4 linked regions of the Homo sapiens genome follow. The protein of the gene in region 2 purifies or fractionates together with the protein of the main gene of each other region. This does not show direct contact. Each region holds a gene or a part of one and is shown on either strand. Other genes may lie near its edges.

Evidence for each region. Proteins that work in one complex are often made in the same cells at the same time.
Region 1: the proteins of PTPN22 (region 2) and SDF4 purify together in Homo sapiens (affinity purification with mass spectrometry, with the first as the bait; one large-scale study listed by BioGRID). This does not show direct contact.
Region 3: the proteins of PTPN22 (region 2) and CRYGD purify together in Homo sapiens (affinity purification with mass spectrometry; one large-scale study listed by BioGRID and IntAct). This does not show direct contact.
Region 4: the proteins of PTPN22 (region 2) and PRKAR2A purify together in Homo sapiens (affinity purification with mass spectrometry, with the first as the bait; one large-scale study listed by BioGRID). This does not show direct contact.

The regions. Positions count from the first base shown.
Region 1 is NC_000001.11:1,222,002-1,226,361, forward strand, and holds part of SDF4 (45 kDa calcium-binding protein isoform 2 precursor), read right to left. Parts: intron 1,968-4,360; coding exon 1,831-1,967; intron 1,357-1,830; coding exon 1,243-1,356; intron 1-1,242. UniProt on the Homo sapiens protein: May regulate calcium-dependent activities in the endoplasmic reticulum lumen or post-ER compartment. Isoform 5 may be involved in the exocytosis of zymogens by pancreatic acini.
Region 2 is NC_000001.11:113,833,021-113,838,241, reverse strand, and holds part of PTPN22 (tyrosine-protein phosphatase non-receptor type 22), read left to right. Parts: coding exon 1-652; intron 653-3,248; coding exon 3,249-3,332; intron 3,333-3,802; coding exon 3,803-3,933; intron 3,934-5,103; coding exon 5,104-5,131; intron 5,132-5,221. UniProt on the Homo sapiens protein: Acts as a negative regulator of T-cell receptor (TCR) signaling by direct dephosphorylation of the Src family kinases LCK and FYN, ITAMs of the TCRz/CD3 complex, as well as ZAP70, VAV, VCP and other key signaling molecules.
Region 3 is NC_000002.12:208,121,725-208,126,567, forward strand, and holds the start of CRYGD (gamma-crystallin D), read right to left. Parts: upstream 2,801-4,843; 5' UTR 2,750-2,800; coding exon 2,741-2,749; intron 2,631-2,740; coding exon 2,388-2,630; intron 222-2,387; coding exon 1-221. UniProt on the Homo sapiens protein: Crystallins are the dominant structural components of the vertebrate eye lens.
Region 4 is NC_000003.12:48,764,375-48,768,734, reverse strand, and holds part of PRKAR2A (cAMP-dependent protein kinase type II-alpha regulatory subunit), read left to right. Parts: intron 1-3,385; coding exon 3,386-3,487; intron 3,488-3,656; coding exon 3,657-3,731; intron 3,732-4,360. UniProt on the Homo sapiens protein: Regulatory subunit of the cAMP-dependent protein kinases involved in cAMP signaling in cells. Type II regulatory chains mediate membrane association by binding to anchoring proteins, including the MAP2 kinase.

The sequences.
Region 1 (4,360 bases), about 110 Mb from region 2:
GTTACTGATAAGTTAAGCAGGCACAAAAAATAAAGGTGTAAGATACACCCAGCCTGCCAGGAGCAGCCCCGTATCACGTGACCAGTCCCGTGGGCGACACGGGCGCCCTGCAGGGCAGCAGAGAACCCACCCCAGGATGCCGGGCAGCGACGGAGCAGGCGACTCTGCACGTTCTCCTCAAAGCCCCAAACCAGACCACGGGCATGACCGGGAAGGGCACACGGAGCCCCAGGGTGGCAGCAACGCCACGGTACCCGCTCAGCTGTGCCTCACAACTGGGCCAGCAGGGGCTTCTGCCTGGACGGCTCTCCCAGACCTGGCCCCGTGCAGGGTGGCCCGGCTCTCCCCTCACCTGGCCTTAGCCCGGGTGCCGGGCCCCACCCGGCCCCACCCTCTTCACGCAGAGGCACCAGCTTGGACCCGCCCAGGGCTGAGGCTGCCCTGCTGGCCAACGGCCACACCCCAGACCCAAGGAAGAGCCTCTCCCTGGGACCTGACCGCTCTCTGGTGACCACCTGACGGCCACACAGATGTCTCCAGCAGACCCAGGCCTCAGGGCCAGGCCCTCAGGCACAGGCTGTGCCCTCTCCCCAGGAAACTCTGCCTCACGTGGCCTTCAGAGTACGGGGCAGGCCCCAACCCAGACTCACAGCCTCAGATTCTCTGCAGGACCTAACTGAGTAACGGCCGTGAAGGTGCCGTGACCAGCAGAGCTGAAAGCTGCCCAGGCACAGCTCACACGCTCCCCACCGGACTCCTGGGCGGCGCCTAGGTCAGCAACGGCTTCACCCACTTCCCTCCTGACAGCCACCACCAACCAGGTTGGGCCATGCTGTTAAGACGAACACGTGTGCACACAGCGGGTGTGAGGGCGCACTCACCTGCATGTACTCACGAGCCTACATGAACAGCTACCTGGATGTACTCACAAGCACACGCACAGCGCACTCGTACACACGACACGCACACACGTACAAGCACATGCACAGTGCACTCGTACACACGACACGCATACACATGTACTCACGAGCACACACACAGCACACGTACACACAACATGCACACACGTACTCACGAGCACGCGCACAGCACACTCGTACACACGGCACGCACACACGTACTCACGAGCACACGCACGGCACACTCATACACGACACACACGGCACACTCATGTACACACAACACACGCGCGCACACACAGGATGCCTGAGACCGGTGGCGGGAGCCTGGCTGAGCACTCACTTTCCTCATCCACTTTGAGTTCCTCGTTGAGCCTGATGGCGTCGGCAACCTCCTTCTCGCTATGGCCTTTACTCGCCAAAAACTTCACCTTATACTCGTCCCAAGACACGTGACCTGGAAGAGCAGATCACACCTGTCAGGGCCTCTGATACTGAGCTGAACTTCCTTCTCAACTGAGATGGGGTCTTGCTCTGCTGCCCAGGCTGGAAGCGGCAGGATGCCAGCGTCTGGAGCCCCAGGGCCCCGGCCAGCACCCCACACCCGTTTCCTCACCTGTGAGGCCAGCCGGCAACGTCTGTGCCTCGGGGCCACCAAGAGGCATAGACACCACCAGATGAAGGCCCCGAAGACATAAGAGGCGCCCTCCATGGGCCACGCCCAGTGCTTGGCACACACACCTCTGTCACCAGGATTCTGGCATCATGAACCCAGCTTCCGTGCACCCCACCACACCTCGGGGTCTCCGGCTGACACTTCCCCACCGCCCGTCCCTCAGACAGGGCCTGTCTGCCCTCCAGGCACCAGGCAAGGCCCATGGCCCTGCCCGCCCCGCCCACCGCCCCACCCACCCCGGCCCAGCCACAGTACCGTCCCCGTCAGGGTCCACGGCGCGGAAGTGTGTCTTGCTCTCCTCCATGGCCTCCTGGAAGTGCTCGGCCGTCTTCTCCATGATCCAGCGCTGCATCTCCTTGGCACTGATCTTCCGGTCAGTGTTCACATCCACCCTGCAAGACAGCAAATGGGCAGGTGGCCGTCAGACTGGGCCCCCAGGACCCCGAACAGCCAGACGGATGCCGCCGGCCCAGGACTCCATGGCTGCGTGAACCTGCCACCAACAGCGACAGGCTCCACCAGGCAACGCGAAAAGCGTCCGGGACGTGGGGCTTGTGGGGTGCCGGGCCACGCCAGAGACACTGGGGAAGGTGGATGCCACGGTCCCCTCCCCGGGGAAACACATGGACCCTCCCCCTCTGTCACACAGAATCACCACCAGACCCCACTCTCCAACCACAGCTTCCAAAAGTCACACTCTTCACGTTTTATTTTATTTTTTGAGATGGAGTCTCACTCTGTCACCCAGGCTGGAGTGTGGTGGCGCAATCTTTGCTCACTGCAACCTCCGCCTCCCGGGTTCAAGCGATTCTACTGCCTCAGCCTCCCGAGTAGCTGGGATTACAGGGGTGCACCACCACGCCTGGCTAATTTTTGTATTTTTAACAGAAATACGGTTTCACCATGTTGGGCAGGCTAGTCTCAAACTCCTGACCTCAAATGATCCACCCACCTCAGCCTCCCAACGTGCTAGGATTACAGGTGTGGCCACTGGGCCCGGCCCATGTTTTATTTTCGATGCTTCAGGTATGGCTACACAAAAACCTTCATATAGGCAGGACGCAGTGGCCACACCTATAATCCCAGCCCTTTGGGAGGCTAAGACAGGTGGATCACTTAAGCCCAGAAGTTCAAGACCAGCTTGGGCAACATAGGGAGACCCCACCTCTACAAAAACAATTACGAAAATTCGCCAGGCGCGGTGGCGTGCACCTGTGGTTTCAGCTACTCAAGAGGCTGAGGTGGGAGGCCTCCCGAACCTGGAATGCGAAGGTTGCAGTGAACTGTGATCACACCACTGCACTCCAGCCTGGGCGGCATACCGAGACCCTGACTCAAAACAAGACAAAACAAAATCCTTCATATAAATTTAAGTTGTGAGATTTAGGAAGAAGACCGTGTGGGGACTTAACATTGTGTGCAAGGATGGAAGAGACCACAGACTTGGGGGATAGGGACACAGACTGGGGACACGGGGCCAGCGCAGGCCAGGTCAGGAGGCCACAGGCCCCAGGACAGGTCACTCCCGTCCCAGCTTCAGAGCTCGGCTTCACCATTATGTCTTTGTGGAAGCCACAGGCTCCTACCCCTGCTGCAGCCGCCCGTGTCCTGAGCTCACCTGTTGGAAACTTAACCCCCAGGGCAACAGCACTGGGAGGCAGGGCTTCCAGAGGTGCGAGGTCTTGAGACCCCGGCTGGTGCGTTTGCCGGAGGCATCCCCGAGAGTAGGGTGCCCTGGCCCCTTGCCTCTATGCTCCGCTCAGGGGCAGCCGCGGCCACGTTATGAGGTGGCAAGCAGGCCCTCGTCAGGCAGGTGTGGCCTCTGGGACCTGGGCCAGGCAAGCTTCGAGGGTGCACACACCGCAGGCACGGCTCAGAAGCACTGGGCAGAGATCCTCATGGAAGAAGGCCAGGCTGCCGCTCACACGCGCCCCTCCCTCAGCAGCCGCAGCAGCCCAGAGGTGGACGGGCCTGGGAGGCACCCTCAGCTCCACAGTCCCCAAAACACACCGGCTGGGGACGGGGCCACCCGGGTGGCCATGTGGCAGGTGGGGCACCTGGTGGGTCTCACGTGGACACGTGCATCCTCGAATGCTCCGGTCACGCTCCACACGCGCCACAGACACAGGCCACACGCTCCACACGCCACAGACACGGGCCACACACTCCACATGCCACAGACACGGGCCACACACTCCACACGCTCTACACACTCCACAGACACAGACACACACGAGGCAGAGCAAAAAGCAAAAAGGTGGAAAGAAACCACATGGCGCAGGATTCCAGTCAAGATGTCGGCAAGGAGTCACTCATCCAAACTCAGGTGCCTGAAGACACGGCTGCAGGGCGGTGCACGTACATGGAGCTGGCACGCACACACGCAAGTGCACAGGCCGGTACCCACGTGTACACAGCACACACACGTGAACAGGGCTGGCAGAACACAGATGTGACTGGGCTGGTGCACACACGCATGTTATCAAGTTCTGGCTCCTGAGAGAACAAGGGCAAGACGCCCAGTGCCCAGACCCTGGCTTCCAGCTCCAGCCACGGGAGACAGGGCTTCCTGGAAAGGCGGCAGCTATTGCACTGGGGCAGGTGGCACGGAGGCGAGCCCAGAGCATCTCACCGTGCCAGGAAGCGGGAAGGAAAGCCTGGAGCATCTCGTGGTGCAGGGAAGCGGGAAGGAAGTGAAGCTCAAAAGCCCCTAGGACAGGGCACCTCCCCTCTGGATGCTCTTTCCAGAAACCCTCAACCCTGTACGGTCAGGAGGAAACATGGC
Region 2 (5,221 bases):
TTTGACAAAAATGCTGACACAACCATGAAATGGCAGACAAAGGCATTTCCAATAGTTGGGGAGCCTCTTCAGAAGCATCAAAGTTTGGATTTGGGCTCTCTTTTGTTTGAGGGATGTTCTAATTCTAAACCTGTAAATGCAGCAGGAAGATATTTTAATTCAAAGGTGCCAATAACACGGACCAAATCAACTCCTTTTGAATTGATACAGCAGAGAGAAACCAAGGAGGTGGACAGCAAGGAAAACTTTTCTTATTTGGAATCTCAACCACATGATTCTTGTTTTGTAGAGATGCAGGCTCAAAAAGTAATGCATGTTTCTTCAGCAGAACTGAATTATTCACTGCCATATGACTCTAAACACCAAATACGTAATGCCTCTAATGTAAAGCACCATGACTCTAGTGCTCTTGGTGTATATTCTTACATACCTTTAGTGGAAAATCCTTATTTTTCATCATGGCCTCCAAGTGGTACCAGTTCTAAGATGTCTCTTGATTTACCTGAGAAGCAAGATGGAACTGTTTTTCCTTCTTCTCTGTTGCCAACATCCTCTACATCCCTCTTCTCTTATTACAATTCACATGATTCTTTATCACTGAATTCTCCAACCAATATTTCCTCACTATTGAACCAGGAGTCAGCTGTACTAGGTAAGTTATTTTTTAAAGTTTGCATAGAATTTTAGATTTCATTTTGTTTCTATAGAATAGTTGGTTTCTTCTCCTCTTCCCTCTTCTCCTCTGCTTCTTCTCTTTCTTTCTTTTTTCTCTTTTTTTTCTTTTTTTTTTTTGAGATGGAGTCTCGCTCTGTCACCCAGGCTGGAGTGCAGTGGTGCAATCTTGGCTCAATGCAACTTCCGCCTCCAGAGTTCAAGCAATTCTCCTGCCTCAGCCTCCTGAGTAGCTGGGATTACAGGCGCGCGCCACCACGCCCGGCTAATTTTTGTATTTTTAGCAGAGATGGAGTTTCACCATGTTGGCCAGGATGGTCTTGATCTCTTGACTTCGTGATCTGCCTGCCTCGGCCTCCCAAAGTGCTGAGATTACAGGCATGAGCCACCACGCCTAGCCTGCTTCCTTCTCTTTCTTCTTCCTGCTACTCCTCAAATAAATACATTCCAGGAGTGTTTTAATGCTGTAATAAGTTGAAAATAGCAACATCAAACATAATATTCCATGAAACAGGCAACAATGGAGGCAATCAAGATCTGGTACAGGATCTGTACCAGCAGGAGTGCTTCTAAAGAAGGCACGCCTCATTTCTAGAAATGTATATCAAAGGCTCACAATATACTGTTTTTTAAAAATATTTTTTGAAACAGAATCTCACTATGTTGCCCATGCTGGAGTGCAGTGGTGTGGACATTGCTCATTGCAGCCTTGATGTCCTGGGCTCAACCAATCCTCCCACCTCAGCCTCCCAAGTAGCTGGGACCACAGGGACACGCCACCATGCCTGGCTAATTTTTTTTTTTTTTAGAAATGGGGTCTTGCTATGTTGCCCAGCCTGGTCTTGAAAATCTGGCCTCAAGCAATCCTCCCACCTTGGCCTCCCAAAGTGCTGGGATTACAGGTGCAAGCCACCACACCTAGCTTCAGAATTTACTCTTAACATATAGAAGCAGCTTCCAAAGGAAGAGCAGAAAAAAATTTGATCAATAGCACCCAGATTTTTTGTTGCACAATTATGTGGCTAAAATGAGTTGAACATATTGCTAAAAATTGAATTATCTTCCTGCAGGATTTGGAAGGGGAGAACCTGATTTCTTGCTCTTTTGTAGTAATCTCGTAGATGACAATACATGTTTAGTATTTTGTGTAAAAATTTTATCATATGTATACCTTTACTTTCATGTTTTGTCTCTTTTATAATTCTGTATTTTTGCATATAATGCATATTGTTCTGTTTTACTGATTAGTTTGAAAGTAGAAATGAGCACCCTGTTAGAGATGATGACAATAATTTGATGTGGAAGATGATGAGGGAAAGCAATGAACAAGTTTAACTCCCTTAGGTATATCATCAAATAATTTGTAAAGCACATTCTACATAGATAGGAGGTGGAGAAAACTTTTGCTCTATAACATTATTTATTGTAGAGTTTCTTAATAAATAGTTGTGTAGATCATTTGTAGCTTTGTTGCAAAAATATCTTATCTGGATCTAAGATGTTCCTTCTGTGATTAGATTATTTTATACATTTTTAAACATTTAAATGTATTTTCTTTTCTTATACCTTAAACTTCTCTGAGCATCTGCATCATTAAAAAACAGAGCGAGACTCCGTCTCAAAAAAAAATTAATTAATAAAAACATACCCTTATTTTCAGGGATTGTAACAATATCGTCATGTGCCATCTGGTGGCAGTTTCTTGTAATACCATTTAAAATGTTTAATAAAAACTGAATGTTTGTATAGAAATACAGAAGACTATCCTATACTGTTGTTTTGTAAAATGGAAAAATACCCATATTCTTGAATTTTGTATAGAATGAAGAGATACTGAAATCTTTATGATTTTACCTAATGTATAACTGAACCTTTTACACGTCAAAGCACTTTATAATGTTTTATTATATAGTCTATGTAAAACAAAAGGAGTTATGTAAAAGTTAATTCAAAGCTTCCAAAATTAATATAATATTTTATGTTAACTGATACACCGTGACTCAATCAAAATGTTTTTGAGCTTTTATTTATTTATTATTATTATTATTTTTTGAGACGGAGTGTCCTGCTGCCACCCAGGCTGGAATGCAGTGGTGCAATCTCGGCTCACTGCAAGCTCTGCCTTCCGGGTTCACGCCATTCTCCCACCTCAGCCTCCCGAGTAGCTGGGACTACAGGGGCCCGCCACCACGCCCGGCTAATGTTTTGTGTTTTTAGTAGAGACACGGTTTCACCACGTTAGCCAGGATGGTTTCGATCTCCTGACCTTGTGATCTGCCCGCCTCGGCCTCCGAAAGTGCTGGGATTACAGGCGTGAGCCACCGCGCCCAGCCCTACTTTTGAGCTTTTAAAACAATAAATGTTAAAGAATAAGCAAAAACCTCCTGGGTTTGTACCTTAAGAGAATTTATTTTGCTTTTTCCTTGAATGAACAAGTGTCAACTTTACTGATAATGTTGCTTCAACGGAATTTAAATATAAATTATGGTAAATTTATATTTAATATTAGAATATAAGAATTTCCTTTGGATTGTTCTAATTAACAATTGTTACAATATTTTTGACATTTTGGATAGCAACTGCTCCAAGGATAGATGATGAAATCCCCCCTCCACTTCCTGTATGGACACCTGAATCATTTATTGTGGTTGAGGAAGCTGGTGAGTACAGTTCAGTAAGTATAAAATAAAGTGTGGGATGGGCATGGTGGCTCATGCCTTTAATTCCAGCACTTTGGGAAGCTGATGTGTGAGCCTTGAGTTTGAGGAGTTCATTGAGGCCAGGAGTTCAAGACTAGCCTGCGCAACATAGTGAGACCTCATCTCTAATTTTTTTTTTTTAATTTAGCAGAGCAATAGCAGCATGCATGTGTAGTCCCAACTATTTGGATGGTGGAGGTGAGAGGATCACTTGAGCCCAGGAGTTGGGGGCTGCAGTAAGCCATGATTGTGCCACTGCACTCCAGTCTGGGTGACAGAGCAAGACCCTGTCTCAAAAAATAAAATGAAGTGTGAATTAACTAGATTACTTCTCAGGTCCTTTCAATGTTTTATGTATTATTTGCTGAGCAACATTTGATGTCTAAAAGAATACTATTCTTAAGAACCGAACTATATTCACTTTCTTCCAGGAGAATTCTCACCAAATGTTCCCAAATCCTTATCCTCAGCTGTGAAGGTAAAAATTGGAACATCACTGGAATGGGGTGGAACATCTGAACCAAAGAAATTTGATGACTCTGTGATACTTAGACCAAGCAAGGTCAATAATTTTTTAATGACTCTACTCATTTAGATTCAATAGACTACAGTTCTACTCCTTGTATTTTTAACACCCATCATTCAATAAATCCTAAGCACATACTAAATATAGAACAATGTGCTAGAGGATGTTGGGATAAAAAGGATGTATAAGACACAATTCTTGCCTGTAAGAAGCTTCTTGTCTAGTAGTAGAGATATAGGATGTGTACAAATCTTTATTTTTGCCTATATTTATTATAACAAAGCAAATGTGATCAATGTCATATGAAAGATAAAGAATTTCAAGTGTAGGAGATGCCTCCAGGTTGGAAGTGATCAAGGAAGATTTAGTGAAAGAGGAAACATTTGAGCTGATTCTTGAAGGATAGTTAAGGCAAAAATAAATGTTTCATACTTAAGTAGGAAGCTTGTTCACTGTAGTCATTTGGTAGGCTATATCATGTTTGCTGTGATAATATGTTATAGAGAATGACAGGTGTGCATATTACTTAAGATAAACCTTTTGGAATAGTGTGGTTGATGGTAAAGTCAGAGATGGGGGTGGGAGGGGTTTGTGGATTAAATAGAAAATAATTATTGAAAGTAGGTGTGTCCTGCTTCTGGAGGAAAAATAGAAGTGTATCTAAAAATGTTATGCATTTCTGTATAGTCTGTGAACCAATTCTCTTAAAATTTGAGAGATCAGAAAAATAATTAAACATTTTAAAGTACCTACAATTGCAATGCTGATAGGCAAATATTCTCTGCCTTTTAAATTATAATTCTAATGTACTAGTAATTATTATTGTCATTAATAATAGGCACATATATTTACTTTAACAACTCCCAGAGGAAAGAACAGTCACTCTTCCAATGTTATGAAGTAACTTCAATTTCCGCAACTTACCTCTAATTAAATTTTCAGGGAAATGTTTCAGGTGGGACAGAAATAAGTCAGAAGGGGATCAATTTAGGACTAATTGCCATGGGATATAAAAATCAGTGTAAGAGTGAAAGATGCCATTTCATAATTCAGCACACTTACAAATTAGGAAAAATAGGGTCTACATTTCATAATTATCTCTACAGCTATATTACATATAAGTTCAAAAATGCCATTTTTTGCTTTGAGTTTGTATAATTTGTATACATATTCTTCTTTCACTTTTCCTTTCTTTTTTTCTTTTAGAGTGTAAAACTCCGAAGTCCTAAATCAGGTAAAAATTTCTCTTGGCTTTAGATGACATTTAGCCCTAAGATTGGAAGAATGGTTCGTTAAGTTTAGAGTAATTCACTTCAGGAAGTTA
Region 3 (4,843 bases), on a different chromosome or scaffold from region 2:
CCCCAGTCCTGGTAGCGCCTATAGTCCCCTGGCATCAGCAGGTACTGCCGTCCTCGGTAGTTGGACAGCTCGTAGAGGACCCAGGAGCCCTCCAGCACGTTGAGGGAGTGGATTTCATTGAAGCGGAAGCGGTCCTGAAGACAGGAGCAGTCCTCAGTGAACTCTATCATCTGGCCTCTGTAGTCCTCTCTCTCATAGAGTCTGATCCTGTGAGAGCCAGACTGGCGGACCCAGAAATAAAAAGAGAAGAAAAGCAAGTGTGAAATGATTCCAATGCATTGTTAGGCAGTCCAGCTTGGTGAGGACCCGCTCAAGCCATTTTGAAATACATGGTAAAATTTAATTAATTCTGAATATTTATAAACTCCTCATTACCGAGCACAGAGATTCAGTACCTTTTCAAGATTATGAAGTGTGGTGAAGAAATTGAGAAGGAAATCTCACTCTTTAATATATTCAGCTATTTCTTAGGATGAGCTGCCTCCTAGGCTCAGTATCCTGTACCACATGCAAATCCAAACCTGTAACAGCTTATTACTATTTTATACCATTTTGAAGAAATGTTTTAATATTAAAATAAACATTAAATTATAAAGAAATATATTTAAATAATGTATAATTTTAATATACATATGATATCTAATACATATTTAATTATATACTATATTTAAAATATATTATAAAATGTATAAAATTATATTTTATTTAAAGTTAATCATATTTTATTTTAATAATTATATTCAAATTATATTTTATAAGTATAAATTAAAATTATATTTATTTTACAAATTATATTTTATTTTAAAATAACTTTACTAAAATATAAATAAAATATATTTAAAATACAGAAATATAAGGGGTGGGGCAGTGGCTCATGCCTGTAGTCCCAGCACCCTGGGAAGCCGAGGCAGGTGGATCACTTGAGGTCAGGAGTTCAAGACCAGCCTGACGAATATGGCGAAACCTTGTCTATACTAAAAATACAAAAATTAGCCAGGTGTGGTGGCGGGTGCCTGTAATCCCAGCTACTTGGGAAGAAAATTGCTAGGGCCCAGGAAGCAGAGGTTGCAGTGTGCCGAGATCATGCCACTGCACTCCAGCGTGGGGAACAGAGCAAGACTTCGTCAAAAAAAATAATAATAATAAATAATAAAATAAAATAAAATAAAAATAAAAATACAAAAATTAGCTGGGTGTGGTGGCGTGCTCCTGTAACTCCAGCTACTCAGGAGACTGAGAGACGAGAATCATTTGAATCCAGGAGGCGGAGGTTGCAGTGAGCCGAGATTGCACCACTGCACTCCAGCCTGGGCGTCAGAGTGAGACTCTGTTTCAAAAAACAAAAACAAAACAACAACAACAAAAATATATATATACACACATATAATGTAAATGAAATATATTAAAAATATATTAAAATATATTTAAAATATGTTAAATATATTTAAAATATAATATAATTTATGTAGTTATATAAATATATTAAATACATATTTATTAAATAAATATATTATTAAATACATTATATTCATTAAATATATTTAATGTAAATATATTTAAAATATAAAAATATGTATTTTAAATATAAGTATTTAAAATATATTAAATATATCATTTAATATATTGAATTAAATGATAATGCATCATTTAAATCAATGACATAAATAAAATATGTTAAATATATAAGCCTTCTATTCAAAATATAAGTGTTTTAAATATATTAAAATATAAATATTTAAAATATATTAAAATATAAAATGTTAAATATCTTCATATATTAAAGAACAATTAATTCTAAGTCAATAACTTGTGAATGCAATGAAGAAAAATGGAGGAAGAAACATCAGTAAGTCCAAGGACGAATTTTGCATAAACTTTAGTGTTCTAACACACATATGGGATAAAAGGGACACATGTGTAAAATATGTGTGTTGCTCTCCTTTGAAGGAAAGTCTTACTTATATAGGTTGGGAAAACCCAAAATATGCAAGAGAGGAGCAAAAACGGGAAAAAGTCTCAAAAGAAATTACCCTGTTTGCTCAGTAACTGCTGTACGCTCTAGCATTTATTCTTCTATTGGGTATTAGTGGTTTTTCTACAACTCCATTCTAAATGATTCCAGAATAGGACTTAAGTCTTATACAACCCCTAGGGCAGGAGACACATTCCTACTCAATACATATTTGTGGATTAATTGTGATTAACTGGTGTCTGGGTAATACTTTGCTTATGTGGGGAGCAAACTCTATTGACTTAATCCACTATAGTTCATCTTTTGTCCACTCTCAGTTATTGTGACTGATCACTACTTCTAATGTTTAACTTTTGCTTGAAACCATCCAGTGAGTGTCCTGAGGGCCTGGGTCCTGACTTGAGGATGTACTCACGTGGGGGATGAGGCGGCAGGAGCGGACCGAGTCGCTGAGGCCCATCCACTGCTGGTGGTCGGCATAGTCGCCGCGGCGCAGGAAGTACTGGAGGCCCGAGTAGTTGGGCTGCTCATAGAGCATCCAGCAGCCGCTGTCCACGCGCGCCGAGTTGCAGCGGCTCAAGTAGGGCTGCAGGTTGGGGTGGTCGCTGCTGCATTCATAGTGGCGGCCCTGGAAGCCCCGGTCCTCGTAGAGGGTGATCTGCAAGGCAAGGCGGGACAAGGCGAGGTCTCACAGGCCTGCTCCTGCCCCAGTCTCTGGCCCCCGCGATGGAGGAAGCTCCGGGGTCCCGGGGCGCAGGCTGGGCTCACCTTCCCCATGGCTGGCTGGGCGCACGGCGGTGCTGAGCTGGTGGGGCGGCGGCGCTGAGCGGGTGGGGCTGCGGCGCGGCGGGCTATATAGCAGGAGGGCTGCTGCGTTGGCAAGAACCGCACAAAAGGGGCCCCCGGAGGGGAGCAAGGGCATTTTCGTGTTCTCTTTTTTTCTCTTTGCTGTGCTAGACCACGGGGCTTGTTGTGGGTTTTGGTCGCATTCTCTCTGGAGTATTCGGATTGCTATCACTGGCTGATGCTATTGAGAATGTTTGTAAAACGGCAATTTGGGACATTGTCTATTTATAATGGAAGTGGAGCTTCAGCTATTTCACATATAGTTCACGCTTTTATTCGTATAGATTGGGGAAAAACAAAAAAAATTTAAGTCGGGGAGCAAAAAAAGCAACGACTCTTAATAAGGCAAATATAAATTAATCTGTCAGAACTACAGTATTACTTACGTGCCACAATATTGAATACTGATTGTTAATAGGAAGGAAATGGGCTTAACTGAATGTTGAAAATTTCAAGTTAGTCCTTTAAGAGAACGTCATCATGAAAGGGTGTAAGAAATTGGAACATTTTATTAAGAGAGTTCACAGAATTTCGAACTTTTATTATGGTAAAACACACAGCAAACGTGAATCTTCAATATTGGGTCTGATTTTGTTGCAATTATGCCTGGAAGTAGCTGAGAATTAGATGTTTTTCTCTTAGCTAAAGGTGGTGCCGTGATTCAAAAGAGAGAATAGTTCTAAGATGCTTAATCTCAGAAAGAACTAAAAAGGGAAATATCTAAGTTTGAGGAAATTAGAAAAAGTAATATGTTTGAAACACAAAAACATGATCTCTTAGCTTGTTATAAAATAAAACCAAATTCCTAAGAAACTTATTTCTGGTAGGATCTAGAATACACCTTTGCCCTCTGAACGAGCGAGAGTACACAAGGCCTTTGACTCAGACGAAATTAATTGCATGAACACAAAGGGGAGCTATGGCTGGAATGATGCAGGGAGAGGAAGGAATAAAAATCTAGAAGTTGGACTCGAGGAAGACTTCAGAAAGTACTTATTGGCCTGGAAGAGAGCAGTTTGATGGACTGGGAAGAGTACTGGAGTGGAATATGACCTATGTGTCCAGCTTCTTTCATGTTCAAAGAATTGCTTACAGCCCTGTGTCAACCCATGGAAGTACTTTGTCTTGTCTTTGAGTCATAAATCTTTGTAAGTGGTATTTATGAATTAAACACCAACTATGTGCAATACAAATTATTTTAATTCTTATTTTCTGGCTGCTTTTTTTTTTTTGTATTCTTTCTATATAGAGCTCTACGGTGGTAGGGAAATACCTTTTTCTTTTGTTTTGTTTTGATTGTTTTCTTCATCCCCATTGCTACATATAGCAGGCGTATGGTAGGTGCTCAAAAATTGGTAAGGATCCTAACTCAAGGAAGTTAAGAGTCTCTAGTGGCTAATAATTGGAGGCTATTGAAATGGAAAATAAACTTGTGGCTGGGTGTGGTGGCTCACACCTGTAATCCCAGCACTTTCGGAGGCCAAGGTGGGAGGGTCACTTGAGCCCAGGAGTTCGAGACCAGCCCTGGCAACATAGTGAGACCCCTTCTCTACAAAAAAGTGAAAAAATTAGTCAGGCATGGTGGTGCGCGCCTGTAGCCCCAGCTACTTAGGAGGCTGAGATGGGAGGATCGCTTGAGCCTGTGAGGTCGAGGCTGCAGTGAGCTGGGTTTGTGCCACTGCACTCCATCCTGGACAACAGAGTGTGACCATGTCTCAAAAAATAAATAAATAAAATAAAATAAACTTGCACTATGAGCCGGTAGTCTCACTTCTAGGTCGCTATCTTTTTAAAATTATGGCATGTCAGGATTAGCGTATATGTACAATGTTATTCTTTGCAGCATTGTTGGTAAAAGCAACATTGGAAAAGCCCAGTCACTTAAGTGGACAAATGGTGAAATGGTCTAAGGGACCTCCAAACAATGGGATGCAATTCAACCATCAAACAGAATAAGATACTGACCTAGATATATGTCCATATTATAATACATTTTAAAAGCAAGTTGCAGACTAATATGTATAG
Region 4 (4,360 bases), on a different chromosome or scaffold from region 2:
CCCTCTGTGTATTTTTTAATATTTATTTATTTATTTATTTTGAGACGGAGTCTCTGTTGCCCAGGCTGGAGTATAGTGGTGTGATCTCGGCTCACTGCATCCTCTGCCTCCAGGGTTCAAGTAATTCTCATGCCTCAGCCTCCCAAGTAGCTGGGACTATAGGTGTACACCACCATGCCCAGCTAATTTTTGTATTTGTAGTAGACACGAGATTTCACCATGTTGGCCAGGCTGGTCTCGAACTCCTGACCTCAAGTGATCCACCCACTTTGGCCTCCCAAAATGCTGGGATTATAGGTGTGAGCCACTGTGCCAGGCCTTTTATTTTATCTATCTATGTATCTATGTATGTGTGTGTGTGTGTCTGTCTGTCTGTCTCTCTGTCTGTCTATATCTATCTATCTATCTATCTATCTATCTATCTATCTATCTATCTATCTTTTGAGACGGTCTCACTCTGTTGGCCAGGCTGGAGTGCAGTGGTGCTCTCACACCTCACTGCAACTTCGCCTCCCAGGGCTCAAGCAATCCTCCCACCTCTGCCTCCCCAGTAACTGGGACCACAAGTGCACGCCACCACGCCTGGCTAATTTTTGTATTTTTTGTACAGATGGGTTTCGCCATGTTGCCCAGGCTGTTCTCAAACTTCTGGGCTCAAACAATCCACCCACCTCCCCACCTCAGCCTCCCAAAGTGCTGGGAATACAGTCGTGAGCCACTGTTCCCAGCCTGTATGGGTTTTTTTTAAATAAATAAATAAAATATTGGGGTTTTCTGTTTTTGTGGGGTTTTTTTGTTTGTTTTTTTTTTTGAGATGGAGTCTCGCTCTGTCTCCCAGGCTAGAGTGCAGTGGTGTGATCTTGGCTCACTGCAACCTCCACCTCCCAGGTTCAAGCGATTCTCCTGTCTCAGCCTCCCTAGTAGCTGGGACTGCAGGCGCGTGCCGCCATGCCCAGCTAATTTTTTGTATTTTTAGTAGAGACGGGGTTTCATTGTGTTAGCCAGGATGGTCTCGATCTCCTGACCTTGTGATCCACCCGCCTCAGCCTCCCAAAGTGCTGGGATTATAGGTGTGAGCCACTGCGTCCAGCCTGTTTTTGTGTTTTAAATAGAGTTGAGGTCTCATTGTGTTGCCCAGGCTGGTCTTGAATTCCTAGCCTCAAGCGATCCTCCTGCCTTGGCCTCCCAAAGTGCAGGGATTACAGGCATGAACCACCACACACAGCCTAAAATATTGTTTTGTTTTTGTTTTTTTCGAGGCAGGGTCTCGCTCTGTTACCCAGGCTGGAGTGCAGTGGCATGATCTCGGCTCACTGCAACCTCTGCCTCCCAGGTTCAAGTGATTCTCCTGTCTCAGCGTCCCAAGAAGCTGGGATTACAGGCGCCCACCACCATGCCTGGCTAATTTTTGTATTTTTAGTAGAGATGTGGTTTCACCATATTGGCCAGGCTGGTCTTGAACTCCTGACCTCAAGCGATCCGTCTGCCTCGGCCTCCCAAAGTTCTGGGATTACAGGCGTGAGCCACTGCGCCCAGCCCATTATTATACTTTCTGACAAAATGTATATATGTATAGTCCTGACAGCCTGAGGTGGAAGAAAGGTAGTTAACTTAGATACAAATAACTGCTTGCCCATTTAGGAATCTAAGACTAAGCAATTAACATTCTCACATGTATCTCCCTGCACATGTGTACACATATCTGAGAAGTGCCTGGTTTGGTTAACTGTCTTCTGATCAGAATCCATTACTTACTAAGCCAGGCACAGTGTTGTGTACCTGTAGTCCCAGCTACTTGGGAGGCTGAGGTGGGGAGATCACTTGACCCCAGGAGTTCAAAGCCAGCCTGGACAACATTGGGGGACCCTATCTCAAAATAAAACAGAAGGAATCCATGACTTGCTAGAGTCAAGGTATCTTTCATATGCCTGCCTTCCATCTTGCGTATTCCTCCCGTGTCTCTCCATTAACTTAAATCCTACCTCTCTTTCAGGTCCTAGACATTTTTGCTGCAAAATAATCTTTGATCACTCCTGCCTACTGTGATCTCCCCTTCTTACCTTGAAATTTATGTGGCACTTGTCTTCTGTAGTTTCATCAAGCACATTTCATATGCTCATATGCTGTCTTGAACTGTAGACTTTTTATTTTTATTTTATTTTTTTTTGAGACACAGTTTCAACTTATGTCACCCAGGCTGGAGTGCAGTGGCGCAATCTCAGCTCACTGCAACCTTAGCCTCCTGAGCTCAAGTGATTCTCCAGCCTCAGCCTCCCAACTAGCTGGGACTAGACAAACGCCACCATGCCCAGCTAATTTTTGTATTTTCTGTAGAGATGGGGTTTCACCATGTTGCACAGCCTGGTCTTGAACTCCTGAGCTCAAGTGATCTGTCTGACTCAGCCTCCCAGAATGCTGGGATTACAGGTGTGAGCCACTGCACCTGTCCTTGAAATGTAGACTTTTTATTCCTATGTATTTTGTTGTTGTTGTTGTTGTTGTTGATATTGTTGTTTTTGGGACATAGTGTCACTCTGCTGCCCAGGCTGGAATGCAGTGGTACAATCACAACTCACTGCAGCTTTGACCTCTCAGGCTCTGGTGAGCCTTTCACCTCAGCCACCCAAGTACAGACAAGTGCCACCATGCCCAGCTAACTTTTTTTGTGTATTTTTTCGTAGAGAGCGTGTTTCACCATGTTGCCTAGGCTGGTCTCATACTCCTGGGCTCAAGCAATTTGCCCACCTTAGCCTCCCAAAATGCTAGGAGTACAGGCAGTGAGCCACTGCATTCAGCCAACCTTCATATTTTGATATTTTATATTATCTCCCCATTAAGATTGTAAACTTTTTTAGGGTAAGAACAATCTAATTGTTCTTTTTTTAGGCAAGAACAATCTAATTGTTTTGGATTTTTTAAGTTTTTTTAAATCCTGGATTCTAAGGATTAAATGATTGTTTTATTCTCTCTTTTGGTGAGGTGTCTCTTTTTTTTTTTTTTTTTTTTTTTTGAAATGAGGGTCTCACTCTGTCACCCAGGCTGGAGTGCAGTGACATGATCTCGGCTCACTAGAGGTGTCTTTTTTGATATTGAACAGTGACAGTGAGCTCATAAATGTTTAGGTGTTTTCTGTTTTGGGTTCTATTTATGACCCATAGGTGGCACCTATTGAGTGCTAGATAGCAAGCAACAGCATGTGGGCATCTGGCTGGCTCAGGCTATAGGTCCTTTACTTCCAGTGATGACTCAAGATTGAAGTATCATTAAACACTTAATTAACACAGTAACTTACATATTCCTCTAATATTTGCTTTGGCCAGTTAATTAAACCATAGATGTTCCTGTATATAGGCATTTACTAGAATTTTCATATTCTTTCTTGTAGGACCGGGTGACTTTTAGAAGAATCATAGTGAAAAATAATGCAAAGAAGAGGAAGATGTTTGAATCATTTATTGAGTCTGTGCCCCTCCTTAAATCACTAGAGGTAAAGTGGCTTGAATAAGAATCTGTTCATGGGGATCAGGAAAAGCTTTTAAAACTATTCTGTTGTTAGGTTTTCAAATCATACTATTCTAATCCTATTTCTGTGCTGCATAGCTATTGTGACTTTCAATTAAGGTCTTTTCCTTTTATTTGTGAATTTGTTGTTTCAGGTGTCAGAACGAATGAAGATTGTGGATGTAATAGGAGAGAAGATCTATAAGGATGGAGAACGCATAATCACTCAGGTGAGTGAGGGCTTTACGCAGCTCCTTTCCTGGAAGTCACCCCTGAAGAACTAGTACATCATTTATCTCAAAAACTTCTTGCCGGACGCAGTGGCTCACGCCTGTAATCCCAACACTTCGGGAGGCTGAGGCAGGTGGATCACTTGAGGCCAGGAGTTCAAGACCAGCCTGGCCAACATGGTAAAACTCCATCTCTACTAAAAATACAAAAATTAGCTGGGTGTGGTGGCCCATGCCTGTAATCCCAGCTACTTGGGAGGCTGAGGCGGGAGAATTGCTGGAACCCAGGAGGCAAAGGTTTCAGTGAGTCGAGATTGCGCCACTGCCTCCAGCCTGGGCAACAGAGCAAGACTCCATTTCAAAAAAAAACCAAAAAACCTTCTATGTTCTCCCACTGTTGGGAGCTCTTATTACCAGGTAATAGATCATACTTCAGAGGACTATTATGTAGTCCTCTGAAGCTTATTGACGTCCGTCTTACTGACACGTGCAGATCTCTTGCTTCCTCTCACCTTTCCTTGGCTTCTAGTGTTTGTTCTTTTGATGTCATTTTCTTTTGACCTTAAGTAAGTTTCATCCATTGCTATTAGAACCTGGGGAAGGTTAAAGAGTTCTGTCCTCTAACTTTC